Linked DNA regions of Homo sapiens: region 2 is linked to region 1. The links come from fine-mapping of genetic effects on gene expression. A gene starts in region 1. The other region holds a variant in brackets. All regions are shown on one strand. Distances are from middle to middle. Region 1 holds the start of PRKAB1 (protein kinase AMP-activated non-catalytic subunit beta 1). Region 2 overlaps PRKAB1-AS1 (PRKAB1, TMEM233 and CCDC60 antisense RNA 1).

Evidence for each region.
Region 2: its variant is fine-mapped to the expression of PRKAB1 in whole blood (INTERVAL, PIP above 0.99).

Annotation. Positions count from the first base shown.
Region 1 is chr12:119,659,469-119,671,521 of GRCh38, reverse strand. It overlaps PRKAB1 (protein kinase AMP-activated non-catalytic subunit beta 1), which reads right to left and starts at 3,389. Exons shown (of 7, transcript NM_006253.5): 1 at 3,119-3,389. The coding sequence starts at 3,277. PRKAB1-AS1 (PRKAB1, TMEM233 and CCDC60 antisense RNA 1) reads left to right here and starts at 3,395. Exons shown (of 3, transcript NR_188494.1): 1 at 3,395-3,579. RefSeq lists enhancers at 2,059-2,694, 3,133-3,542, 5,677-5,821, a silencer at 3,643-3,912 and a cis regulatory region at 5,740-5,757.
Region 2 is chr12:119,567,596-119,583,703 of GRCh38, reverse strand. All of the region lies in intron 1 of PRKAB1-AS1 (PRKAB1, TMEM233 and CCDC60 antisense RNA 1), which reads left to right. Among named protein-coding and RNA genes, the nearest start is that of TMEM233, 18 kb to the left of the region's middle. The variant C/T (reference allele first, on the strand shown) is at 7,012.

The DNA of each region.
Region 1 (12,053 bases):
TGCTTGCTCTCATTCTCTTCTGCCGTCCTGTGAAGAGGTGCCTTTTACCATGATTGTAAGTTTCCTAAGGCCTCCCCAGCCATGCGGAACTGAGTCAATTAAACCTCTTTTCTTTATAAATTACCCAGTCTCGGGTATTTCTACATAGTAGCATGAGAACAGACTAGGTTTGTGTAAGTACACTCTATGATGTTCACACAATGATAAAATCACCTAATGATGTATTTCTCAGAATATGTCCCTGTCATTAAGTGATGTATGACTGTACATGAAAATTTAAGAGGAACAATTCTAGAGCTGTCAACTTGAAAATAGGCAAATCCAGATTTTGAGGAAGGGAAAAACTACTCACAAAGTTCTGTCTAGGGACTGGGGAATAAAGCAAGACAAAGACTGAACCCTCATTAGGATAAATGATAACCTCCAGTGTGGTAAGCTCCGTATAACTGAGGTATTCCAGAATAAGAAATAAACTCATCCAAATCTATCTGGATGACATATGTAGTCATGCACCTTTTAGATTTTTTCCCAGTCAGAAGCCAAAGACTTAAAAAGAGCAGAAGGTTCAGGCTGGAAAAGACTCTTCAGGGAGTTAAGCAGGCTTCTAGCACCTTCATCTCAAATACCGACCTCAGCTTATCCAAATGATGCCTGTATTCTTTGAATTCTAACAAGATCTACATATTAAATAACAGACTGGAATCACTTCACACTAAGGATAACTAATTATGACCAAAATAGCACCCTAGTGTAGTTAAAAGAATTCACGACTTTTTTGGTATCTGGGGATTTCAGTAACTTCTAATGAAGTGAGAATGGACGCTGCTTGAAATCATTCCCCATAGATGATGTGTGTGCTCAACATTTCCTGGAGGAGTTTTGGAATAGTAACAGAACAAATACTTCTGAAGAAAGTAGTTTTGATTCCTTTGGTGTCTTAAATAGCCTTCTTGGGACCAGGGACCAAAATTACCTCCTGGGGAAAGGACGTCAAGTCATTAGAGAAACATGATTCTAAAGTTCACTTTGCACACAGCTCTTCAAGAATGCAACAAATTCAGAGAGCAAGTTCAAACCACAGGTTGTAGGGCCACATAAAAGCAGCCTCTTTGTAGTCAGGCTCAAAACTAAGATCCAAAAGAAGGTGTGAGATGTGATCACCTCGCTCAACATGAGGACAAACACAGATGGAATGAGCTGCCAAGCAATTAAATGGATGATGATTAACATGAAATTGGATACTAACAGGGTATGTTGGGCAGAGGGCAGCTTTATCTTTCCTAAACCTACTTTGTTCCTTGAAACAATTAGTTCCTTTTGGACATAACACATAAATACCAGCTGCCAGAATCACTAAGTGTCCTTGGACTGAGCCCTGCGGCTGGAAATATCCACCATATGAAGGTGGTTAACAGGAGTGTGGTTGAAGCAGGAGTTAAGTCACCTGAGTTTTTGAATTTAAACAGGCTGCAGCAGGAAGAAAAATGTTTGCACTGGCCTGCTTAAGCACGATTAAGTCATATTTAAACAACACTAGAGAGAAGTTCAGTAGCTGCTGGCTGCCTCCTTCAGACAGACCCTCACCGCCCACTGACCTCTAGAAGCTGAAAGACTTTTCTATGTACGCTTTAAAAAAAAGCAGGGTGAGGCCGGGAGTGGTGGCTCATGCCTGTAATCGCAGCACTTTGGGCGGCCCAGGCGGGCGGATCACTTGAGGTCAGGAGTTCAAGACCAACCTGGGCAACATGGCGAAACCCCACCTCTACCAAAAATACACAAAATTAGCCAGGCATGGTGGCACACGCCTGTAGTCCCAGCTACTCGGGAGGCTGAGGCAGGATGGTTTGAGTCCGGGAGACGAAGGTTGCAGTGCCCCGAGATTGTGCTACTGCCCTCCAGCCTGGGCAACAGAGTGAGACTCCATCTCAAAGAAGGAAAAAAAAAAAATAAGTAGGGTGGGTTCAGTGGCTCACGCCTGTAATCCCAGCACTTTGGGAGGCCGAGGCAGGCGGATCTCCTGAGGTCAGGAGATGGAGACCATCCTGGCTAACACGGTGAAACCCCGTCTCTACTAAAAATATAAAAAATTAGCCGGGCGTGGTGGCGGGTGCCTGTCGTCCCAGCTACTCGGGAGGCTGAGGCAGGAGAATGGCGTGAACCTAGGAGGCGGAGCTTGCAGTGAGCCGAGATCGCGCCACTGCACTCCAGCCTGGGCGACAGAGCGAGACTCGGTCTCAAAAAAAAAAAAAAGTAGGCTGAACCGGCCAGCACCGTAGCTCACGCCTGCGATCCCAGCACTTTGGGAGGCCAAGGCATAAAGATTGCTTGAACCCGGGAGTTCGAGACCAGCCTGGAGAACATTGTGAGACCACCGTCTTTTTTATTTTTATTTATATTTTTTTTTTGAGACGAAGTCTAGCTCTGTCGCCCAGGCTGGAGTGCAGTGGCGCGACCTCGGCTCACTGCAAGCTGCGCCTCCCGGGTTCACGCCATTCTCCTGCCTCAGCCTCCCGAGTAGCTGGGACCACAGGCGCCCGCCACCACGCCCGGCTAATTAGTGAGACCACCGTCTTTTAAAAAATAAGTAGGGTGAATCAAAAGTGTTGGGCAGAACTAAACACCTCTGGCAACTGCCGTCAGCTGTTCCGCTCTACTTTCAGCTTGTATATGTACCTGGTTTGCCTCCAAAATGGATAAATTCCCAAACTAACTTTTACAAAAGCTCCAGTTTGTGTAAAGGTGAGGGAATTTGTCTCAAAGCAGTGCAATTAATTACACCTAAGAGAAAAGCAGAAGCTGGGGCTCAATTACTGTTAGCTCGACTCTGAATTAATTAAGAATTTGAAACTCTGTCCCAGAGCTGCTTTCTCCTTAATGATGTTAAACCAAGTGAGCACCTCCTCCCTCAGGGTGACTTTCTCATATTGGTAATTAGACACAGGTTCTTGGACCGCTAAGAGAACTCTTACAGGACCATCTGGCTTTTAAGTGCACCGGGTAATGTACCACCTCCCTCTCCGTTCTGGTGTTTTTCGAAAGGATGTGACGGGAATCTAGTGGAGGGTTCCTCTCCTCAACATTAGTCAAGGGGAATCGGGTTCCTCCACACCGCTCGCACCTTGATTTCCTCGGAGTGGAAGAGGTCGGCGTCTTCGGGGCTGTCCATCAGGATCTTGGGCCTGTCCCCGTCCTTGGTGCCCCCCGAGCTGTCCCTCCGGGGCGTCTTATGGCCACCATGCCGCTCCAGCGCGGCGCGCTCACTGCTGGTATTGCCCATGATGGGGGTCTGCGGGGACACAGGGAAGGCGGACGGCGCCTCACTGCAGGAAAGGGACCCTGAGCAAGGGACTCCCGGAACCGCGGGTCCCAAGGAGCCTGCGGAAGGAGTCGGAGCACCAGGACACCACGCCCCTCGGGCCGGGAGCCGGTTCCGGCTGAGTCGGCAGGGTTGCCGAGCTCTCGCAATCGCGCTTTACCTGCCCAGGCAAGCCGCGGCAAGAACGCAAGGGGCGCGAAGATAAACCGACACTTTCCCAACCGCTTCACCACCCCTCAGCGACTTCCGCTTCCGGCGACTCCGTAAGTCGGCCCGGCCTAGGGCGTGGAGGTGGCGGCGGCCAGCTAAACGCGCGAGGCTATCTCGATTCCATTTCCGCTTCCGGTCTTGAGCGGTGCGGTAACAGGTGCCCCGGGCCGTCTCTGCAGGCCTCGGAGCGCGCAGTCGCAGTCAGCAGCCGGCCGCCCAGGGCCAGGCCCAGGACGAGGCGCTGCCGAGGGCCGGCAGGGGGCACCCCAGCGCGCGGGCAATCTGAGCCGTTCATGCGCTGGGCTGAATAATGCCATTTAGCTATCTTTGCTCACTTATAGTTGATTCTACACTCTGCAGCCAGAGGGATCTTTCTAAAATGCAAATCTGATTCAGAAACTCCACTTCTTAAAGCCCTTTTAATGCACGTGTTCTCACGCTTTACAGTGCATTAGGTTAACCTGGAGCGCTTGTTAAATGCATCCCCCACTGCAGACCTGCAGAATCATGATTTCTACAGATTAGGGTCGGGGGTGCAGGCAGTCTTGCAGGTATTTGAAAAAATGGCAGACCATAAGATCTCTGGAAATTTCTTATGTCTAGTAGGTTGGGGGTTGTAAAATGCTGGAGTTATTCGTGTATTTTTATTGAGTGTGCAATCTTTTGATAGGTAATTTTGCAAGATATCTTGTAATCACTTCGGAAACATCCTTCTGCATAAGATGCATTAGCGTTTGTCATTTACTCTGGTCAGTGCTTCAACAAGAAGTGCATACAAATACGGTAGTAAAATATTCTCATCTTCTCATTGTCAGTCATTGTCATATTTTGTGGGTTTTTTGGTGTGTGAATATCTCAAAATACTTTGCATTTGCCGGGTCAGGTCATGCATTTCACCCACTGAACATTTATTTAGTACCTAAAAAAGTACCAGACATTGTGCTAAGGAAATGAGGAACACAAGATGACTAAGATAAGGTTTCCTGGGGGGAATTCAGCAGTATGCATCAAAATTTAAAAATGCACCTTCATTTTGACACACAATTTTACTCCTAGGAAACTTGTGCAGAAATACACACATGAAAATTATTTACAAGCATTATCTACAAAATATTTACATGCAAAAATATATTCTAAGATGCACTTGTCACCCCCCATGCCCCCATATATTTTAATTTCTGAAACTGGATGCTTTTTACAATAATGGAATCTTACACTTGGTGAAATAAGGAAATGAAAAACTACAAAATCCTAAAAGTTGTTCAGTAGGAGAATGGCAAAATGAATGGAATACATTCATTTTGTAGAATACCAAGCAACTTTTAAAAAGGGAGAAACCATTTTTAGGTCACTATGGGGAAGTGTCTATGATATTGCAAGGTCCGGAAGCAAGTGAGAGAACAAGTTCAAGGGCAGGAGCTCTGAATTCAGCCTGGCCATGTTCAGATTCTGGCTTTACCATTTAGTAACTGTCACCTTAGTCTCTTCTTTTGTGAAATGGGAACAAAAATAACACCTACTTCATAGGCTTGTTTTGTGAATTAATTGGGAACGTGCATAAAAATGCTGAGCATAGCACTTGACTCTTAGTAAACACTCAATAACTGTTAACACTTTTATTAGCACTATTAGGCTAGCAAATGGAAAGTTCTGGAAGGGTATACAACACATTGTTAATAGTGGTCTTCTGTGGGGAGAGGAGGGAGATTGCAAATAGGAGCAGACAGAAAAGGGACTTTCACTTTTCATTTATATAGTTCTGTATTTGAAAAGTTTTCTATTGTGAGGATGTACTACTTTTTAATTTAAAAAAATAAGATATGGTTCCAGCCCCAAAGGAATTAATACAGTACAGGCTGGCACCGACCCACAGAAAAGCAATAATATAGCTAGGTAAGGGATCCTGTGGGAGCCCAGAAGGGACTTAAGCCAGGCCAGGAAAAGGGATGGGAGCCAGGAAAAGGGATGGGAGCCAGGAGGGTCTTCCTGAAGCTGATGACTGAGAATTTGAATGTATTCAGTATAATCAGAAATGTTGAATGTGCTTGCTGAATTAAATAAGCTAAGATACTGTGGATGACCCAGGATATCTTCTTTGAGCTGCTTTTCTAATAGTGGCCCTGACTTGGTTACATGAGACAGTGGGGTGTTGAGTTTTGAAATCTCTCCCAAACAGCCGGAGAGATAAGAAAGAACACATGAGCTGTGGATTCTTTATCTGAGCTATGCAGATGCTTTGATGCATGAAGAAAGTTTTAAGACATCTGCACTAGCTTGAATAAGATAACAGTGAAAGCATGGGTGGCCCTTGATGTCAAATACAATCAACAATATCCTGAGGATGCCACCAACTGCTGATTGGAAACTCTTACCACATTGTATCAAGATTTCATGACAAAGAAACTAACATTGGTATCTATCAGCTATTGACCCCATATTGAAAATCATGGGTAGGGTAGACTCGCCAATTACAAGTGTCTACTTGGGTCCCAGCTGTGTCTCTCTTGGGTCATTTTGTGTTACTTATCTGTGTAACAATGGTTTGTGACTTTCCTAAGCATCAGAGCGTCTCATCTTTCTCTGATTCTCTGCTGATATGGATGTCAGACCATTCCATCTTGGGGGCTGGAGGTGTGCCAGGAAGTATAACTGTTAGCACATTGCTGTGTAAAAGGCATCATCTACTCACTGCTGTCTGTCTGGCACCAGGGCAAAGACAAATGATAAATACCCTAGATTCTCCCCCAAACAAACCAGGGCAATTTTAACACAGCCACAGCTAGGAGTACCCCTCCCCCACCCCCGCAACCCTGGCTTCAAATTCACTCCAGCTCCAAGCACAAAAAGAAGTAGGTTTTCAAGTCCTTAAAAGTCACCCAGAGTGAGATAAAATCTCATTTATCCTTAAATTTATGATTAAAAGGGTTAAGGATAATGTTTTGGGGCCTCCTCCATAGGATGGATTAGAATCAGTATAGCACTTCTGAACTGACCAACCCATTTGTTTTATATAAGGAAGAGTCTAAGTCCCAGAGATCGAACAGTTTTGCCTGAGGTCACTCAGATGATCATAGGTCATACTGAGACTGAATTCTGGATCACCTGGCCACTCCCCACTACATCATGGTCATGGCACCTCATCAAAAAGACCTTTGGTTCCCCAGCTGGCCTGTCTACAAACATTTGTACTGTTCTGAAGAACCCTCCCCATCTAAGAACAGCCAGGGCTCTGATCACAAATAACTCAATGGCAATATTGAGTGCCAATTATGAGCCAGGCACTGTTGTAACTCTTGGTTACAACAGTGAACAAAACCAAGTTCTTGCCCTCCAGAGGAAAGAGTCCACACACATATGCACATGTGGTGAGAACAGGCAGTGTTCTCACTAAACATCGGTAGCTGGAGGAAGAAATTTCACATTTGGACTATGCTGTAGACTAAATTGTATCCCCCCAAAATTCATACATTTGCACTCCCACTCCCAATTTTATAATGTTTGGAGGTGGGGCCTTCAAGGGGTAATTAGGGTTAGATGAGCTCATGAGAGTGGGGCCCCCATGATGAGATCAGGGTACTTATGGGAAGAAGAGACGCTGGAGAGCTTGCTCGCATGCTGTCTATTCACGCCCATGCTCAATGGAAAGGCCATGTGATGACAAAGCAAGAAGGCGGCCATCTGCAACTCAGGGAAAGAGCCCTCACCACACATCAACCATCCTGGCACCCTGATTGTATTAGGCCATTCTTGTATTGCTATAAAGAAATATTTGAGGTTGAGTAAGTTATAAAGAAAAGAGGTTTACTTGGCTTATGGTTCTGTAGGCTGTACAGCAAGCATGGCTCTGGGTATCTGCTTGCTTCTGGTGAGGCCTCAGGAAGCCAAGGGGGAGCCGATGTATTGATGTATCACATGGCAAGAGTGGGAGTAAGAAAAAAAGTGGGAGGAGGTGCCGCACGCTTTTAAACAACCAGATCTTGTGAGGGCAGCACCAAGACGATGGTGCTACACTATTCATGAGAAGTCCACCTCCATGATGCAGTCACCTCCCACCATGTTGGAGGCCTCACCTCCAACATGGGATTACATTTCAGTGTAAGATTTAGGGGGAAAAGTATCCAAATTATATCACTGATATTAGACTTCCAGCTTTCGGACCTGGGAGAAGTAAATCTCTGTTGTTTAAGCCACCCAGTTGATGATTTGTTATAGCAGTCTGAGCTGACTAAGACAGACTCAAATGTGTGTGGGCTGCTAGGATAGAATTACAAGCTTACTTTTAGGGCTTAACCAGATTTCCACCAGGCCTTCTGAATTTTGCCTAGCCAATGTAAGTAACACTGCCAATGTTTGAGAAACTTGTCCATCTTTTCTTGCTAGACATTCTTGTGTTCTCTTTGCACTGAGATGTGAATATTGTGACAGAGAGTCATCAACATAGAATTAAAAGAAGTTCATTCTACAGCATTTGGTCTACAACCTTAATTGGCAAATAGCCTCATTTTGTGACTTTTAGGTTGTCTGAGAAAATTCTGTTTCTTGACCTGGGTTGGTAATTATTAACATGTTTGCCTTGTAGTAACTTACTAAGCCATACATTTCTTTTGTGTAGTTTCCTGTATCTTTATTTTATTTTCAATAAAGTTTTTTTTAAATAAATAGCTTCACTCACAGGGTAAGCTGAAACCTAGAAGGGAGAAGTGCCCAGTTCAAGGTAACACAATGTTCTTAATAAAGTTCACCTCAAGTCTATCCTCTTTTTTTTTTTTTTTGAGATGGAGTTTCACTCTTTTCACTCAGGCTGGAGTGCAGTGGTGCAATGTCGGCTCACTGCAACCTCCGTCTCCCGGGTTCAAGCGATTCTTCTGCCTCAGCCTCCCAAGTAGCTGGGACCACAGGCGCACCCCACCACGCCTGGCTACTTTTTGTATTTTTAGTAGAGACGGGGTTTCACCATGTTGGCCAGGCTGGTCTCAAACTCCTGACCTCAGGTGATCCACCCTCCTCGGCCTCCCAAAGTGCTGGGATTACAGGTGTGAGCCACTGCACCTGGCATCTCTATCCTCTTTTAAGAGCTTTGAAGGAATGGAGGAGAAAAGGATGTACACTTTCTACCCCTTTTCTAGAGGACAAGTGACAAACTAAAGCAGTATCCAGGCAAAGATCCAACGGAGGTGAAAACAATGAGAGGAAGTCTGTCTCTGTCTCATCTCTTTAAAATGTAAGCTCCCAGGGATTTGAATATCAAAGTTTCATAATCACTTTAACATATGCTGTTGGGACCATCATACCCCATCTGCATGTGCCCTTCTGCGCATGCCCCAAACTTCCTAACTGTGAGCAGGTGCAACTCTGAGGGCCTTCTGGAGAAAGCTTTGTCGACACAAGTGGGAACCCAAGGGGACCAGAGAAGACACCCTGAGAGAAGCCCTCAGCCAACCACAGAGGAGCCAGTTCCCTTGCCCCTTGGATGTGCTAACTCTAATGAAGCAGCGTCATTTTTCTGGGGTAACACCCGAGGTTCGATGTCTCATGCTAAGGAAATTGAAGACATGGCCATGCAAGGAGTGGGTTTAAGAGTGGAAAGTTAAATAGATGAAAGAAGGAAGAGAGCTTCCTCATGCAGAAGAAGGGGTCCTGAGTGGGTTTCCCTGGTTTGGGGCAAGGTGTGGTTGGTTTTAGGGATGAGCGTGAGGAGATGGTATATGATTTACATGGGGTGTAGTGGATTGGTTGGACCAGATGTGCCATTTTCATAGCCCGTGAAGAGGCTGGTCATCCCACTCTAATCTTTTATTATGCAAATGGAATTTTAAAAAACCTGGCTGGTGCCATGTTATCTGCACACGTGGCAACAAAGAAAAGGGAAGAGGGAACCTCCATGTTGAATATACCTGGTTTCCAGCTATCTGTTTTCTATTGGCACAGCTGCTGGTATTTACCTATGCAAGCCTCTAGCTTGCTTATCTATGCTTGCAGCTTGATTTTTCAGGCTGCTTTTTGTTAAAAAAAGAAATGATTTGGAGACTGCGTTTTTATTAAAAGAAAAACCTTACTGAGGACTCTCTTACCCTCACTAACTGTCTAAATAATTTCTTTTTAGCTCTCGTATAACTAAGATATATTCCCTACCGTGTCTCAGAGGTCCCCAGTGGAAATGCACCCTAGATGTCCACAGCAGTAATTGGATCAAGGAATTCATTGATTATCTTCCTTTCCTTTTCTTTATCTCTTTTTAGGAGCACCTTCCAAATAAATACTCAGAAACACCTCCCAAGACACACTAATTGCATGAAAATCCTAGTTCAACCACATAGGTTACAGATGAGGAGGGACAATAGCTTGCTGAATTATAGAAAAAGTTAGTGGTCATAGATCATAATTTGGATCTTATGTCTTGGTTTCTGGTCCAGGGTACTGTGAGATTATCATTCTTCTTGATATGATGAACCATGGAGACTTTTAAAAAACAGGGATCGGCAGCATTATCATAATAGACAGAAGGTGGAAAGAATCCAAATGTCCACCAAGAGATGAGTTTGTAGGCTGGCACAGTGGCTCATACCTGTAATCCTAGCACTTTGGGAGGCCGAGGTGGGTAGATCAACTTGGGGCCAGGAGTTCGAGACCGGCCTGGCTAACATGGTGAAACTCCATCTGTACTAAAAATACAAAAAATTAGCTGGTTGTAGTGGCGCACACCTGTAATCCCAGTTTATTGGGAGGCTGAGGCATGAGACTTGCTTCAGCCTGGGAGGCGAAGGTTGCAGTGAGCTGAGATTGTGCCACTGCACCCCAGCCTGGGCGACAGAGAAAGACTCTGTAACAACAATAACAAAATGAATTATAAACAAATTGTGGTATGTTCATACAGTGGAATATTCTTCTATCACAAAAAGGAATAAAGTACTGTTACATGTTACAATGTGGATGACCTCAAAAATATTAACATTATGCTAAGTGAAATAAGCCAGACACAAAAGGTCATATATTATATGATTCCATTTATATGAAATATACAGAATAGATATATCCATGTCAATAGAAAGCAGACTGGTGGTGACCACGGGCTTGGCGGAAGAGGGAATGAGGGCTTTCTTTTGGAATGATGAAAATGTTTTAAGACTTGGCATAGATGGTGGTTCCACAACATTGTCAATGTACTAAATGCCTATGAATTGTTCACTTAAAAATGTCTACTTTAAAATTAACATTTATGTTGTATGAATTTTACCTCAAAGAAAATAGGGTTAGTCCTAGAACAAATGGTAGAGGTGTACAGTTTATCTTTTTTCCAATTTATTTTCTGCAACTGTCTTACAAAATAAACCTCTCCGCACCCTGTCCTTCCCTGTAAGTGTCTCATGACTCATGTCATCTAGCCCATCAGAACCTAACTAGTTCATGGCACTTGTTCTAGTTAATATTGATTTTTTCAGAGGCCTTCAGTTTTCTAATTGCATTAATTCATTTCTTTATCAATAACTTTTTCATGGCAAAAACTCCTATCCACCGGGCACTGTGGTAGACACTGGGGAGAGAATTGTGGGCAAAATCAAACCCAGGCTCTGTCCTGAGTGTTTACGATCTAGTAGGGAAGAGAGAAATTAATCGAACAATCATCCAACAGTCTTCTGTGACAAACGCTAAGAAGGAGAAGTGTGACCTAGTGAGAAGGATGTGACCAAGTCCTGAGGTCAGAGGAGGCTTGCTGAAGGAAGTGACAATCAAGTTGAGATTTGGAGATTGTAGGTGTTAAAGTGAAAGTTGTTTATCAATCCTTATTATGCACTCGGCATTGTGTTTGATGTATGAACTCATGTAATGCCACCAACAGTCCTTTGAGGGATCTACTATTATTACCACTTGCATTTTTCAGGAGAAAATGAGGCTCAGAGAGATGAAGTGACTTATTCGAGGTCACACAACTAGAAAGTCATGAAACCAGCATTCAAATGCAGGCAACCAGACAGATGTCAACATTTTAGCCACCACGGACAGATCATTGAGTGAGGGATGAAATCATTTTGGGTGGGCCAATGGATTGGGCTGATCTAGATTATAAGTATAAAGCTGGAATGGTCATTCAGAGAGGGAGAACAAACTAGGTGTTCAATTGTTTTAATATCTATTAAATTTTCTAGGCTAGATGCAGTGGCTCTCAGCAGCTTGGGAGGCCGAGGCGGGAGGATAGCTTGAGTCCGGGAGTTTAAGACCAGCCTGAGCAAGCTGTCGAGACCCCATCTTTATTATATTTTAAAAAATAAAAATTAAAAAAATAAAAAATTTTCTAACTACGAATCCATGTTTGTTTTTTCTTTTCTTTTTTTTCAAAAGAGCATCAATTTCCCAACCATGTTTCTTATTGTTACAAAACTCAATAAAAATCTGAAAGTTGGAAGCCATGACTTGCTGGGTGTAACGTACTAATCAAGAAGGTGGAATCAATTATTAAATAGTCAATAGGGTTAACAGCAATGAGTGATCATGGCAGGCAATGCCCCTAGCATCCCCTAGGTGGCAATAA
Region 2 (16,108 bases), 90 kb after region 1:
AGGAGGAATAGAATGACCAGAGGTTTTGAAGTGAGAACGTGCTTAACGATGCATAAGACATGCACATATATCTTAGGGAAAGCGGAATTGATGTCAACTAGACATATCCCCTCCAATAAGGTGTAATTCCACAGGCATTTCTGGAAGTGGCTGTGGCATCCTTTAATTCAGAACCTCAAGTGGACTAACTGTAAAGTGAGTTGCCTTGTGAATGACTAAATTGCAGTTGCCCTAAAAATGGGGCTTTCACAATGGATTTTAGTGCTTCAGAGTTGAAGAAGGTGGAACGTTTTTTCTTCCCACACTCACTCTTACGGTTTCTGAAATATTTCAGAGCAAAAGCACCTAATCTTGGAGTCATATGAAGTCGAGGAGCCCTTTTGGGCTGGATCTCTGCTATCCTGTAACCACAGGGAAGAGCGTAGTCTTTCATCCTTTCTGGCTGGCTTTGCTCTTTGGTTCCCTGAAGCCTCACCTTTCTGCCCTCTCTCTTTGCCTCTAATTTCTTACACCATCTTCCACTGGTCAAAATGATGATGGGCACTTTCCATAAAGCATCAACTTTCCTCTCAGAGCTTGTGCCTTATACACCTGTCAACTGCTTCTCTAAATATGACACACAAATCTCTTTACCCCCTAATTGTTCTCTGACATTATTTGTGCATTGTCAAGGTTTACAACATGTAAATTTTGTTTTCTATGATATAGAGAATGTAATTCTTTTGGGCTTTGTCCAAAGGTGGTATCACCAATGGATAGTTTCAATAGTGTTACCTAAGTATGATTTACTGCAGAATCAAGTAGCATGATTAAATTTATAGAGAAGGACCTAATCCTATTTCATTACAGTTGAGTCTTTTAGAGGAGAATATAATTAATAAAAATTGGGAGGAAGGATCATTGGGAGGGCAGAAGTGTATTAGTTCATTTTCATGCTGCTGATAAAGACATACCTGAGACTGGCTGATTTATAAAGAAAAACAGGTTTAATGGACTCACAGTTCCATGTGGCTGGAGAGGCCTCACAATCATGGTGGAAGGCGAAAGCCACATCTTACATGGTGACATGCAAGACAGAATGAGAGCCAAGTAAGAGGGGAAACCCCTTATAAAGCCATCAGATCTCGTGAGACTTATTCACTACCACAAGAACATTATGGGGGAAACTGCCCCCATGATTCAGTTAACTCCCACCAGGTCCCTCCCATACAGATGGGAATTATGGGAGCTACAATTCAAGATGAGATTTGGGTGGGGACACAGCCAAACCATATCAAGAGGATACAGCATATTGTAACCATATAGCTATTGTTATTTCTATTATATGCCATTCAATTTCATCAAGTTAATCTAGATTATTTGTAAATATATAATTTATCTATTTTGTTTTTAGAGTTCTCTAACATTGTGATCTAATTTAGACCATTTTTTTCATGCCCACTGCATACGTGTCATCCTGAGACTTGATTTTATTGCACTCCTGTCTTAATTTCTATAGCTTTACTAAAAGCCTTGATATTTGCTAGGACAAATCCAACCTCATGCTTGCTTTCTTCGTATCCTTTTCGCTATTCTTGGCCCTTTGTTCTTCTTTGTGACATGCATTTTTTTTTAATCTCAGGTGCAAAGGGCTAGTTAATGGTATTCCTCACTTCATTTTACATACTGTCATTGGTCCATTCAAGGCTCTGGCCTTGTTTTTTGCTTGATTCTTTTTATCCCCTCCATACCCCAATCTCAGGCACCCACTTAAATGTCTTTGGTGTATGTATCTGGTTACATGTGTATCACAATACATTATTTTATGTGTATATGTGCTTAAATGATACAAAAAATGTTTTGTAACAGAGACCATTGTTTCTTACCTTTTAAAAGCAATATGATTTTCAGATGTATTTTTGCTGCTATATGTACATCTAGTTAATTCCTTTTAACAGTTGCATAGTATTTCAAAGCACGCATCTATTACAACTTGCTGTTACATTTCTTCAGTAATGGACATCTAGTGGTCTTTAGCTCCCTATAGCACAAACACTGTTGCAATTCACATTCTTATAAATGCCACGTTAGAGTTCTGTGTGAGAGTTTCTATAGAGTACATATGTTCAGGGGCAGGGTTGCTAAGTCCTAGGGTATACACAGATTTTCTTTCACTAACTATTGATGGATTGTTTTCTAGAATGACTGTACTTGTTTACATGCCCATCAGAATGCATGGAGATTCCTGTTATTAGCTTGCTTTCCAGCTTTTGCCAGTCTTATGGGAGTAAATCAGTATCTAATTGTTTTAATTTGCATTTCTTTGATTACTAGTGAGATTGAACATTTATTCATTTACTTTTCAGCCATTCAGATTTCCCTATATGTAAATTCTCTGTCAATATATTCTTCTGAATTTTTCTATTTCTATTGGGGCTTTCTTCTTTTCTTGTTGATTTTGTTTCTTTTATTTTCTAGATGTTAATTTCTTGTTTTTTTTAATTTTTTTTGTTATACTTTAAGTTCTGGGTTACATGTGCAGAATGTGCAGTTTTTTATATGTTGCAAATACCTTCTTTCAGGCTATCATTTATCTGTTAACTATGTGATATTTCTTTAAACAGGGAACCTTAATTTTGATGTACCACCAGTTTTCCACCTATGGTATAGGTTTTAAATTTTATTTAATAAGTCATTCTTCATTTAGAAGTCACAAAAATATTCTCTGACAATTGCTTCTATTAGATTTCTGGTTTCACATTTTACATTTACATCCTCAAGGAATTTGGAGCTCATCTTTGTAAAGGTGTGAGTCAGGGATCCACTTTCAGTTTTGTTCAAACAATGAGTTATTAGGTTGGAACAAAAGTAATTGCAGTTTCGCATTACTTTCAATGGCAAAAACCACAATTACTTTTGAACCAACCTAATAGTTTCCTCCAAACCATCCATGATTATACATGGCTCTAGTAGCCACTTCCCACACCACTACTGCATGTTTTTTTTATTGCTATGCATTTGTATGATGTATTAATATCTGATAGGGTGAACCCTACTTTTCTTCTTCAACTTTTAAGTTTAGGGGTACATGTGCAGGATGTGCAGGTTTGTTACATAGGTAAACATCTGTCACAGTGGTTTGCTGCACAGATCAACCCATGACCCAGGTATTAAGCCCAGTGTATATTAGCTGTTCTTCCTGATGCTCTCCCTCCCCCCACCCCAAAACCCCCACCCTCCCACCCCCACCTCTAGGCCCCAGTGTGTGTTGTTCCCCATTGCTTTTATTTAAAAAACTAGCATAGACAATTCATATTGTCTTTAAATAAGTTTCGTGAAGCACAAACGTGTATTCCATGGATGGAAAAAAAATGGAAAAGTTATTAAGTCTTCCCAAATTTGTCTGTATGTATTCAAGGCTTCATCTATGTATTTCAATAATGTTTCATAATTTTCTTCATAATTATAGTCATTATAGTTTTTCTTGCTGTTTAAGTGGGATTTTTTTTTTCTATTACATTTTCTAACTGGTAGTTCTTAGAATGTAGAAATTATACTGATATTTGTATGTTGATATTCTGGATACGCTTATTGGTTCTAACAGTTTGTCTATAGATTCTCTTACATTTTCTGTATAGCTAATCATATTGGTTGAAGAAGCTTCTTTTCCTATTCTTAAACATCATTTATTCTTCTTAATTATAATTTTTATAATGTTAAGCAAATATTATTTTCTTGTTACTGACTTTAATGAGGATGCTTCTAAAGTTTCACCAGTAAATCTATTTGTGATAGATTTTTAAAGAAAATGTTAATTTACTTTTTAATTGAAGTTTTGTTATAATTTTAAAATATAGCTTTACATGAATATCATTCACATTTGGCCAGAATAGACATAAGTAAACCTAGGTGATTCAGAGTGAGGTCTTATAATCAGTTGTTGTAGTTGTTTTGGCTTTTTAAAAATCATATTAAGAAAGTTTCCATTAGCTTATTAATGTAAAAATTATTTATAACTGTTGGATTTTGTTATCTTTTCTGCATGAGTTGAGAATTATTCTATTATTTGGTAATTATTTTTATCACTTCTATTTTCTGTTCCTCTTTTTCTGGGTCTCTTATTAAATAAATTTTGAATCTGCTGGATTGTCTTTTGTGTCTCTTAGTGTTTATATTTTGCATGTCTTTTCCCCTTAGGTTCTTGACAATTTTCCAGGCTGTGCACCAAATTAAAAATTTAGGTAGTATGACTTTTAATTTTTTAGAGGGCCTTCCTATTTTCTGATAATGTCTTTTCTGTAGACCTTATAATTGTCAACACTAATTATTATTTTAAAATGAATATCTTGGCCGGGCGCAGTGGCTCACGTCTATAATCCCAGCACTTTGGGAGGCTGAGGCAGGCTGATCACGAGGTCAGGAGGTCGAGACAATTCTGGCTAACACGGTGAAACCCCGTCTCTACTAAAAATAATAAAAAATTAGCCAGACATGGTGGCGGGCGCCTGTAGTCCCAGCTACTCGGGAGGCTGAGGCGGGAGGATGCCATGAACCTGGGAGGTGGAGCTTGCAGTGAGCTGAGATCACACCACTGCACTCCAGCCTGGGCAACAGAATGACAGAATGAGACTCCATCTCAAAAACAAAAACAAAAACAAAAACAAAAAGAATATCTTCTTGGTTTTCTCTGAAGACACTACTAACTATAATTAAAAAAAATTTTCTTGGCTGGGTGTGGTGGCTCATGCCTGTAATCCTAGCACTTTGGGAGGGTGAGGTGAGATGATCACTTGATCCCAGGAGTTTAAGACCAGCTTGGGCAACATAGTGAGACCCTGTCTCTACAAAAAAATTAAAAATTAGCTGGGCATGGTGGTGCAGCTGTAGTCCCAGCTACTTGGGAGGCTGAGATGGGAGGATCAGTTGAGCCCAGGAGGTCGAGGCTATCATGAGCCATGATTGAGCCACTGTACTCCATCCTGGGCAGCAAGATGAGACCCTGTCTCAAAGAAAAACATTATTTTTTTTCTTTTATAGCTTCTCTTTTTTTGGTTGAAGTTCAGTTGTGTTATTTGTTCATCTTAGTTCACAAATGTCTGAGGATCCTTGGTTGTCCATTCATATTCATAGTGGAATTCATTGATTAATACTAGCAGCTATTGTGGATTTTCTCCACATTGTATAATAGTGTTTCCAGTATGACTTTTCCTTTGAATGGGGGGCCATTATCTTGTATAACCTTCACAGTAGCTACATTAGTTATCTATTGCTGCATAACCAATTATCCCCAAACTTAGCAGCTTGAAACAACAAATATGTATCATCTCACATGTAGGTAATATCTCATAGTTTCTGTGAGTCAGAAATCTGGGCACAGCTTAGATCGATATCTCTGACTCAGGATCTCTCGCAAGGCTGGAGCTGCAGCCATTGCAAAGCTTGATTGGGTGGTGTGGGTGGCAGATCCACATCCAAGCTTACTCACATAGCTGTGGTTGGCCTCATGTTCTTGGTGACTTTTGGCTGGAGACTTTAATTCCTTGCTATGTGGGCCTCTATAAGGGTACTCACAGCATGGCAGCTTGTTTTTGGAGAACCAGAGCAGACAGAGAGAGAGGAGTGAAAGAGAGAGAGAGAGAGATTCTTTCGCAACCTAATTTCAGAAGTGGCATCCCATCATTATTGCTGTATTCTATTGGTTACAAGCAAATCAGTAAGTGCTAAGTCCAGCACACCCTCAAGGGGACTCAAGGGAAGGGGATTATGCAAGGGCATGAATGTCTGAAGGTGGGGATCACTGGGGCCATCTCAGTGGCTGTTCTATTACTAACTCCCAATGAGAAACTGGGGCTTACCAAGGTTAAATCACTTGCCTAATATCCAACAGCCAATGAATGGTGGAGCTGAGTCTTGGACCCAAATGGATCTGTTCCAAAGTTTGCCCACTCAATCTCCATACCGTGATTTTCCAAAGGGTAGATGCATCCCACTGATGGAATGTAAGACCATTTAAGGTGGTACAGAAAGTCTCAAGTTGGTGCAAATATACCCTTAGCCTTCTAACCTTCATTCATCTCCTTTTGATCAAGAGGGGGCTGGCCTGAGTCTCAAAGTCTTGGGGGACAATGTTACCTAGCTAGAATTTAATAACATGGATGTCTATTAATTGTGTTTACTTCCAGTTTTGTGAAGTAGAAGTGGCTTTAAACTAATGGCAGTGACATAAAATTTTCTCTTAAAATACAGTTTAAAAACACAAAATAGTTAAAGTAAAACCTTAACTAACAGAGATGGCACTCAGATATGGAAAACATAGTGAAGGTGATCTATAGATTACTCAAGTTTGCAAAAGACTACCTAAATTATAATGCGTCTATCCCGAAAAGAACCTTGTAGATAGTAATTCTTTTTGGCTCAATTTTATTTTTCCCCTTCATTTTATAAATGTGTAAAATGAAATCAAGAAAGGGTAAGTGACTTCCTTATGGGTACACAACTTCCATGATCACAGCCCAATTCCATGACTCACTATTACTTCTATTATTTAGCAGGTTGAAGCAATTTCTTTTTACTCTCCCTACTCCCAACCCACTATTTCCCATTCACTTTCCCTCACACCCCACGATTTCCCATTCACTTTCCTCTAAATCAGGGTTTCTCCACCTCAAGACTGTTGACATTTGGGGGCAGGAGAATTATTTATTGTGGGGGCCTGTCTTGTGCCTTGTAGGAGGCTGAGTGGCATTCCTGGCCTCTACCCACTTCATGTCAGTAGCACCCCCATCCTCAGTTGAGACAACCAAATATGTCTCCAGACATTGCCCAATGTCCCCTAAGGGGCAAAATCACCCTTGTTGGGCATCACTGCTCTAAAGCAGCATTTTGTATTTCTGCAAGCTCTCAGGTGCCACTGGTCTGTGGACCACACTTTTAATAACTACTTTAAACTATACAACCTAAAAAGGTAACTGTTCCTGCCTTCCCTCCCCACTCCCCCATTGTTTGGAGACGGTGTATATCACAGTTGTAATG[C/T]AAAATAACACTCTGGTGCAATATTTGCTATGAATTAAATTAGGTTTCCTACGTGGAAGATGGGGATTCTAGCATTAAACTTTCAGAAGCAAATTGTTCCCGAAGGGTAGGGAACACACATAATCTAGTTTTATTTCCTATACTTGGTAAATTAGAAACCAACTGGACAAATTAAGAGGAAATGCTTATCAAAAACAATCATTTTGTTATTTGTGTTATTTGGGAAAAAAGATGACCCTAACCTACATATTTAGCAAGTGTGGTTTGGGAACAGTTTGAAGAATGAGCATGCTTGAAGTGAATGATTCCTGAATGTGTTGTGCCGATCACGCAGAGGCTGGGATGAGCTCAGACTCTTGCTCGGCAGCAGAATGGACCATTTTTAATTGCTTAAGAGAGCTTCCTGGGAGCGCTGCACATTAGCCAGGGATGGGAGGCAGATCCGTGTATAAGCAGGAGGGGTTGTAATGTCATCCTAAATGTCTTCAATTATACATGAAGGAGTGGGCTTTCTATCACAATCCAGCAAGAAAGCTCTTCTTGGGCTCCTAGGGAATTTTTGTGCATTAAGAATTAAAACTTTCCTGCATCTTTTTGGCCAAGGAAGGTTCGACATGATTTTGCTAAGGGATGATTCTTTCTCTTGTTCTTTTGTGAAAGATTGAAAGTGGGTTTTTAAAAGAGCCACAGATCCCAATATTTAACCCATTCTCCCTCTCATTTCTTTCTATCATAGTCAACTACCTCCTTCTCCAGCCTCCCTTTTCACATCTCTGTTCTTTCTGTCTCTTTGATCTTTTTGCACAGTGAATCTGATGAGGGACAACAAGTATGTTTCTTTATGACTCGCACTCTGAGGTGCTGGGTTGGTTGGTTTGTGTTCCTTACAAAAACCAAAACAAAACATCAGTTTCAGGAAATAGGATGTGAAATTGTTTATAAGAATTTTCAATCTTATGGCCTTGGATGACTTCCGTTTCTTTTTAGGCAGCCCAAGTTTGAGAACAGCAGAGTTCAGGCAACAAAGAAAGAAGTTTCCAATATTAAGGCTAAAATTGGGATGTGATGAATTCCGGTCTCTGAAAGTTTTTCTGAAGATGTTGTGTAGGCTAGGGAGGTCGGGTTAGATGGGCCAGTGCTCTTCCTGGCTGCTCACCAAAGTCACCAGGGGGAGCTTTTCAAAAGGGGAAGATGTATTTTTAGCCTGGGTTCTAATCCTAGGATCTTTGTTTATTAAAATCCTCCCTTGAGATTCAGATGGAGCCAACCTGGGTCTGGTCCCAAATGGCTTTTAGGAACAGTATCAGCAGAATTGTAAGTTACCTTAGAAAGGCCTGAGGACTCTCTGGGATCCTCCATGATTTTAGAAACTAACTTAGGCCAAAGGTCACCTACTCATGTCTGGGATAATGGTAGCCAAAAATGGCAGGGCACATGCCTGGATAAGTCAAATCCCCGTCCCCTGGCTTCTCATTTGGGTGACCTCGGACAAGTCAGTCTGTGAGAGCCTCAGTTTTCTTGCCTATAAAATGGGGACAATAATGCCAACTCTAATGCAGTTGTTGTGATGATTAAAGGAGACAGTGCATGTAAATTGCTTATCACAGTGCCTGGCACGTGATAAGCACTCAGTAAGTCTTAGTTGTTGGAGGCTTTAAAAGGACAAAGTGACTTTTATCAAGAGGATTTGAGGTGGCATGAGGTAAGCCAGAGCCATCGGGATGCTTCAAATTAGAGGGTGGAAACTTGAGAATAGTTGCTATCAAAACCTGAACTCATGAAAAGAATAATGGAGAAGGTGTTATGTGTTTACAAGAATGAACGCCCTTTCCTAATTCCCAAACATTTGGGAGAATTCAGCTTAAACCATGAGACAGAAAATATTATTCTGGACACTTAGTGAACTTTCGATATTGGGAGACATACTGGTCTTTTTTTTTTTTTTTTTCCTTCTGTTCCTCTAAATACCCTTGTTGCCACCACAGGGCCTTTGCATATGCTCTTTCCGCCATCTGGAATACCATCCTTCTGATCTTTATGTGGTTGGCTCCTTTTTGATATTCAGGCCTCAGCTCCCATGTTGCCTGCTCAGCTAAGCCTCCTGTTAGCACATGAGCTAATGTGGCCACTAAGTCACTATCACATCATCTCCCTCCCAGGCACTTAATATTGTTTGAAATAATCTTTTCCAACTATTATCCTCCTCATCATCAACAATCATCATCATCATCATCATCACCATCATCATCATCATCATCATCACTGCTATTATTTACCCAGCATCCGTCTTCCTCACTAATATGTAAGCCTCACAAAGCAGAAACCTTCCTTTACTATTGTATCCCAGGAATTAGAACAGTGCCTGGCATGTAGTAAACACCCACTTAATATCAAGCAAATGAATGAGAGAATGAATAAAGTGACATATAAATGTCAAAGACATCATTGTTTATTAAGAAATCAGGGTGTCTAAAGACAAGCAGTCTTAGGACTTGAAGGAACCATTCAGATGATTAACCTCAAAGCATTCTTTTTTATAGGTAATGGCATTTTTTTTTTTTGAGGTGGAGTCTTGCTCTGTCTCCCAGGCTGGAGTGCAGTGGTGCAATCTCGGCTCACTGCAAGTTCCGCCTCCCGGGTTCATGCCATTCCCCTGCCTCAGCCTCCTGAGTAGCTGGGACTACAGGCGCCCACCACCACGCCCGGCTGATTTTTTGTATTTTTAGTAGAGACGGGGTTTCACCGTGTTAGCCAGGATGGTCTCGATCCCCTGACCTCGTGATCCACCTGCCTCGGCCTCCCAAAGTGCTGGGATTACAGGTGTGAGCCACCATGCCCGGCCTATAGGTAATGGCATTTTTAGAGATTGGGGCCGGGCTTAGTATTCTGGTGTCCAGATTTGGGCAAGTATGCATAGGAAGACAAGGGAACTACGTATTTGAAATTAGGACTCTGGCCACAGTGGTTGTATTGACATGGAAAAATTGAGAATAAATGGCCATAGGTTTTGGACTAGATAAACTCTCTACAACATATCCCGACAATGAAAGCCTTCCTTAGGGTGGTGGCTGTCTGTGCTTAAATGCCTTCTCTGACATTTAGGGATCAGTAAGGGTTAGTTTCAAAAGGTGACTGAATTTGACTGGGGGAGGCTCCTTGGCACTTGGAGAATTGACCTCAATGTTTAGTGCTAGAAGATTGAAGATATCAGAGCACTAGCAATAAGTAGATTGTATTGGCACTTAGCTTGGCTCCCTGGTGTCCCACTGGGAATGGCCATACCCTACACTTTGCTTCACTGGTTTAATGGGAGGAGTTCAGGACAATAAAAAAAGCCCACATATCCTCATCTCAGGCATCTGGGATTCACATCTCCTTTCACAAAAGACATGTTATAATGGAGGCTTCAACCATTCACTCATTCATTCATTCATTCATTCATTCATTTATTTAGCATATAGTCATCTAATGCCTACGTTATGGGCTGAACTGTGTCTCCCCAGAATTTATATGTAGGAGTCCTAGTCTCTGTATCCCAGAATGTGACTGTATTTGGAGATAGGGCCCTTAAATAGGGAATTACATTCAAATGAGGTTAGTGGGATGGGCCCTAATCTATTGCTATGCTAGAACTTAAGTCTGCCATTTTATTATTTGTTGTGTTTGCTTCCTCTTCTTTTCCCTTCCTTCCTTCCTTCTTTCCTTCCTTCCTTCTTTCCTTCCTTCCTTCTTTCCTCCTCTCCTCTCCTCTCCTTCCTTTTCCTTTCCTTCCCAGTCTTGCTCTTGTTCCCCAGGCTGGAGTGCGATGGCGCGATTTTGGCTCACTGCAACCTCTGCCTTCCAGGTTCAAGAAATTCTCCTGCCTCAGCCTCTCGAGTAGCTGGGACAGGCGCCTGCCACCATGCCCGGCTAATTTTTGTATTTTTAGTAGAGACGGGGTTTTACCATGTTGGCCAGGCTGGTCTAGAACTCCTGGCCTCAGGTGATCCACCCACCTCAGCCTCCCAAAGTGCTGGGATTACAGGCGTGAGCCATCGCGCCCAGCCTCCTCTGTTTTTCTTTACTTGCCTTCCTATAGGTTACTTGAATACTTTTTGAGATTCCATTTTGATTTATTTCTAGTATTTTTCAATATCTCTCTGTATAGTTTTTGTAGTGGTTTCTCTGGGTAGTGATGTACACGTATTATTAATATATAAATATTTATTATATATGCATATCTGCACACACATACATGCATATATTATAAATTACATATATATTTATTATAAATTTCCTGATATAAAGGACATGTAACATTCAACTTGCAAATAATTAAAAATACACAATATTTTAGTAGTAAATTTCAAATACCCAGTTCTCACAGAATTCTTATTGATTTTTGTCAAATTCTTTTATCTTTAGCCAACCTAGGGTTGCGTTGATGAATGAGTGTAGTTTTGACATGAATGTTAGTTGATATTTTTGTTTAGGTTAATGAGAAAGGCAAAAATGAAACAATGAAGACATGGGAATTTCACTTATTTGTCAATGATATGAGCAACTTTTTTGCTAAGTTGGATAATAGTTTCAATACTGGAAGAGTATTTCTTCTTTTTTGTTATTCATAATGTGATGACTCCTTTTAAGTTTAATCTACGTGGTTAATATTTTATGTATCACTTTTAAAAGTCTAGATCTGGGTTGGCAAATTACAGCTGTGGGTCAAATCTGCCTGCCATATGCCTGCACCCATTTGTTTACATATTGTTTTTGGCTGCTTTTGTACTGCAGTGGTAGAGTTGTATACTTGTGACAGAGACTATGTGGCTTAAAAAACTGCAAATATGTATTGTCTGGCCCTTTACAGAAACAATTTGCTGGTCCCTGGCTTAGACAATCAACAAAACAGTTAATCAAGGTTTATTTGTAATGTTACCAATTTCTGTGGTGTAAATATTCTCACCAACCTGAGGTCACTAAGTGTGATGTTGGAAAGAGATGTATAGTTAGCACACCATTATATAGTGTTTCTACCATATATATGCTATAGAAAGAAATAACCTCGAAGCATCAATAATAATAAAATATTGTAAAATAATTGGAAAACATTGAATTTTTATTATCTTTGTTTTATTTATTTATTTATTTATTTTTGAGTGGGAGTCTCACTCTGTTGCCCAGGCTGGAGTGCAGTGGCACAATCTTAGCTCACTGCAAACTCTGCCTCCCAGGCTCAAGTGATCCTCCCACCTCCGCTTCCTGAGTAGCTGGGATTACAGGTATGCGTCACCACACTTGGTTAATTTTTGTATTTTTAGTAGAGACAGAGTTTCACCATGTCAGCCAGGCTGGTCTAGAACTCAAGCGATCCACCCACGTTCGCCTCCCAAGGTGGTGGGATTACAGGCAGGAGCCATAGTGCCTGGTCATCATCTTTGTTTTAAATATAATTTATTTAATTGTAAGTTCATATAATCATTTTAAATAATGGCTGCATTTAACAGGTGGTTCACAGAATTAATGTAAATTTAACAACTGGCTCCTCAGAAGTTGATATGAGCCAGCTCTGGCACATCACTGGGTTCAGTCTTCATGAGGTTTGTCTTATTTCTGGTTTGCCCTCACTTTTGGCGTCTTATTTCTGGTTTGCCCTCACTTTTGGCGTATAGCCCTTTTCAGTGAAAGGGACAGCCCTTTCATTGAAATTCAAGTGAAAGCCTGGGTGTGCTTTCCTGTTATATGGTTTGGCTCTGTGTCCCCACCCAAATCCCATCTCGAACTGTAATCCTCACGTGTGGAGGAGGGGAAGTGATTGGATCACGGGGCAGTTTCCCCCATACTGTTCTTGTGATAGTGAGGAAATTCTCACAAGATCTGATGGTTTTAAAAGCAGCAGTTTTTCCTGTGCTCTCACTTCTCTCTCCTGCTGCCACGTAAGATGTGCCTTTGCTTCTCCTTTACCTTCTACCGTGATTGTAAGTTTCCTGAGGCCTCCCCAGCCACTCGGAACTGTGAATCAATTAAATCTCTTTCCTTTATAAATTACCCGGTCTCGGGTAGTTCTTTATAGCAGTGTGAAAACAGACTAATGCAACCTGTGACCTTTCTCCTTGTTAGATCCTGAGCTCTTATTTTGCTTCTCCAGTACTGTTGTGATGGTGGAAAGCTTTGCTAAACAGCTCAACCTCTTATATCCACTTTCTTCTCAGTTTCTTAGCTTGGTGCTATTGACAAATTGGCAGAAGATGGCATAGAATGTCAGACTAACCTCGGCGGGCTCAGAGAACTTTAACCTCTTAAGCCCTGGCTGCTTTGATATCTTTGCAATGCCTTCAGATAGATTTTTTGGGCATTTATTAATCTTTTCAAATTGCTTTTGCCAGGAACATTCTGATACAGGCTAGTTCATCAGAACCAGAAGTGAAGTCCCCTGTTTATGACGTTGTAAGTAGAAGTTTTTATATTGCCAAATATATCTGAGCATAGAACTCAGTTTTCCTTTATGATAACTCGTTTAGAAATCCTTTATTAAACTCAAGGTCATTCATATTTTCTTCAAAAATTTAGACTTTTATTTTCACATTTAAGTCTTTTTTTTTTTTTTTTTTTTTGAGACGGAGTCTCATCATCCAGGCTGGAGTGCAGTAGTGTGATCTCAGCTCACTACATCCTCCGCCTCATGAGTTCAAGTGATTCTCCTGCCTCAGTCTCCTGAGTAGCTGGGATTACAGGTGCACACCACCAAGCCCAGCTAATTGTTGTATTTTTAGTAGAGATGGGGTTTGGCCATGTTGGCCAGGCTGGTCTTGAACTCCTGACCTCAAGTGATCCACCTGCCTCGGTCTCTCAAAATGCTGGGATTACAGGTGTGAGCCACCATGCCCGGTCTCACATTTAAGTCTTTAATCCATTTGGAGCTGTATTTTTTAATAGTGTGAAGTAGAAATCAAATTAAAAAAAATTTTTTTACAGATAGCTTATTGTCCTAGTGGTGTTTATAGAGTAGGGGTATACTTTTCCTAGTGACCTGTGATATTTCTTTTGTCGTATGTCTAGTACTGTGTCTGCACTCTCTACTCTGTTTAATTAAACTATTTTTAATATTTTTGCACCAATAAAGTACTATCTTAATTGCTATAGTTTTCTAAGGTAAGTCTTGATTTCTTTTTCTTTTCCAAAAAATGTCGTGGCTGTCTTTGGCTTTTTTCTCTTTTGGAATTAGCTTTTCAAGTTTCACAAAAAACTTTATTAGAATTTCATTTGAAATTGCCTGAATATTTATATAATCAATTTGGGGAGAAATGTCTTTCTTGATATAAATATGTCTTTAATGTCTTTCAAGGGAGTTGTATAGTTGTATAATTTTCCACTTGAGGCTCTGCTTATTTTTAAAATATCTGTATTTCTGGCTACCAGTTTATTTTGCCATCATCATTGAGTATTTTATTTTATTATTTATTATTTTTTAAGAAGGAGTCTCGCTCTGTCACCCAGGCTGGAGTGCAGTGGCATGATCTCGGCTCACTGCAACCTCTGCCTCCTGGGTTCAAGCCCAGCTAATTTTTGTATTTTTAGTAGAGATGCAGTTTCACCGTGTTGGCCAGGCTGGTCTCGAACTCCTGACCTCAAGTGATCCGCCCGTCTTGGCCTCCCAAAGTACTGGGATTACAGGCGTGAGACACTGTGCCTGGCCTGTTGAGTATTTTAAATGTTATATTTCTGTTTGTTGTTGATGCAGATAAATACAGTTAAATTTTATATCACTATTATATTCAATTACCTTGCTAAATTGCCTAATTTATTCTAATAATTTATAGAGTCTTTGCAGTTTCTATGTGAATAATCACATTCATTGCAAATAATTCATTTTGTTGCCATATTTTAATCATTCTACCTTGGTTTAATTCATCTCGTATTATTGCATTGGCTGGGGTATCCAGTACAATTTTGAATGGAAGAAGTGAGAATGAGCACCCTTCTTTTGTTCCCTCCTCTAAAGGGAATACTTCTAAATTTTACCTGCAATTATGATTTCTGTTACAGGTTTTAGGTAGACACGTTTATCAAGTTAACTATTTTTTTTCTCCTATTCCTAGTTTGCTAAGTGTGCTCTGTTTTTTAAAACAAATTACAAATGAATGTTGAATTCTATCCAATGCCTTTTCTTCATCCATTGACAAGATCATATAGTTTTTTTCCTTTGATCTGAAAATGTGACAATTTACATTAAAGGATTTTTAAAGGTTAAGCTAATCTTACGTTCATGGTATAAGCCAAATTGGCCATGAAGGATTTTATTATATGATATAGTTTACGATACGATATATGAATGATATATTTCATGAACATATAGCTAGGTTTTGCTTTCCGATATTTAGGATTTTTGCACATATATTTATTTGCAAGATTATCCTGTAACTTTCCTTTTTCATTTTCTGTCTGGTTTTGGTATCGGAATTATATTAGATTAACGGGTACATTTCCTCTCAGGAATTCTTCGGAAGCACTTGTATAAAATTGGAATTATCTGTTTCTTGAAAATTTGCTGTAAGTTTTTACAATTCTATCTAGATCTTTTTCTTTCCTTTGAGGAAATATTTTAAATTACTGACAAATTTTCTTCGTTTTAGAACTATTCTTGTTTTCTGTTTCTTTCTGAGCCAGTTTTGTAAAATATATAATTTTCCATATATAATTTTCCATGTAGTCTAAACTGTCAAATTTATTGTCATGAAGTTTTTCATAGTATTTCATTATCTTTTAAAATCTCTCTTTTACGTATTTTTAGACATATTCTCCATTTGTGCTTTTTCTCTCTCTTTACTAGATCAATCTCACCAGAGACCTGCATCTGTTATTATTTTTTCTTGAAGAACCAACATTTCATTTTTTAAAAAATCATTTATTTATTTATATATAATATATATTATATTATATATATTATATATTATAATTTATATATATTATATATTATATATAATTTATATATATTATATATAATACATATATTATAATATATATTATATATTTTATATATATATATAATATATATATTTTTGAGATGGAGTTTTTGCTCTTGTCGCCCAGGCTGGAGTACAATGGCATGATCTTGGCT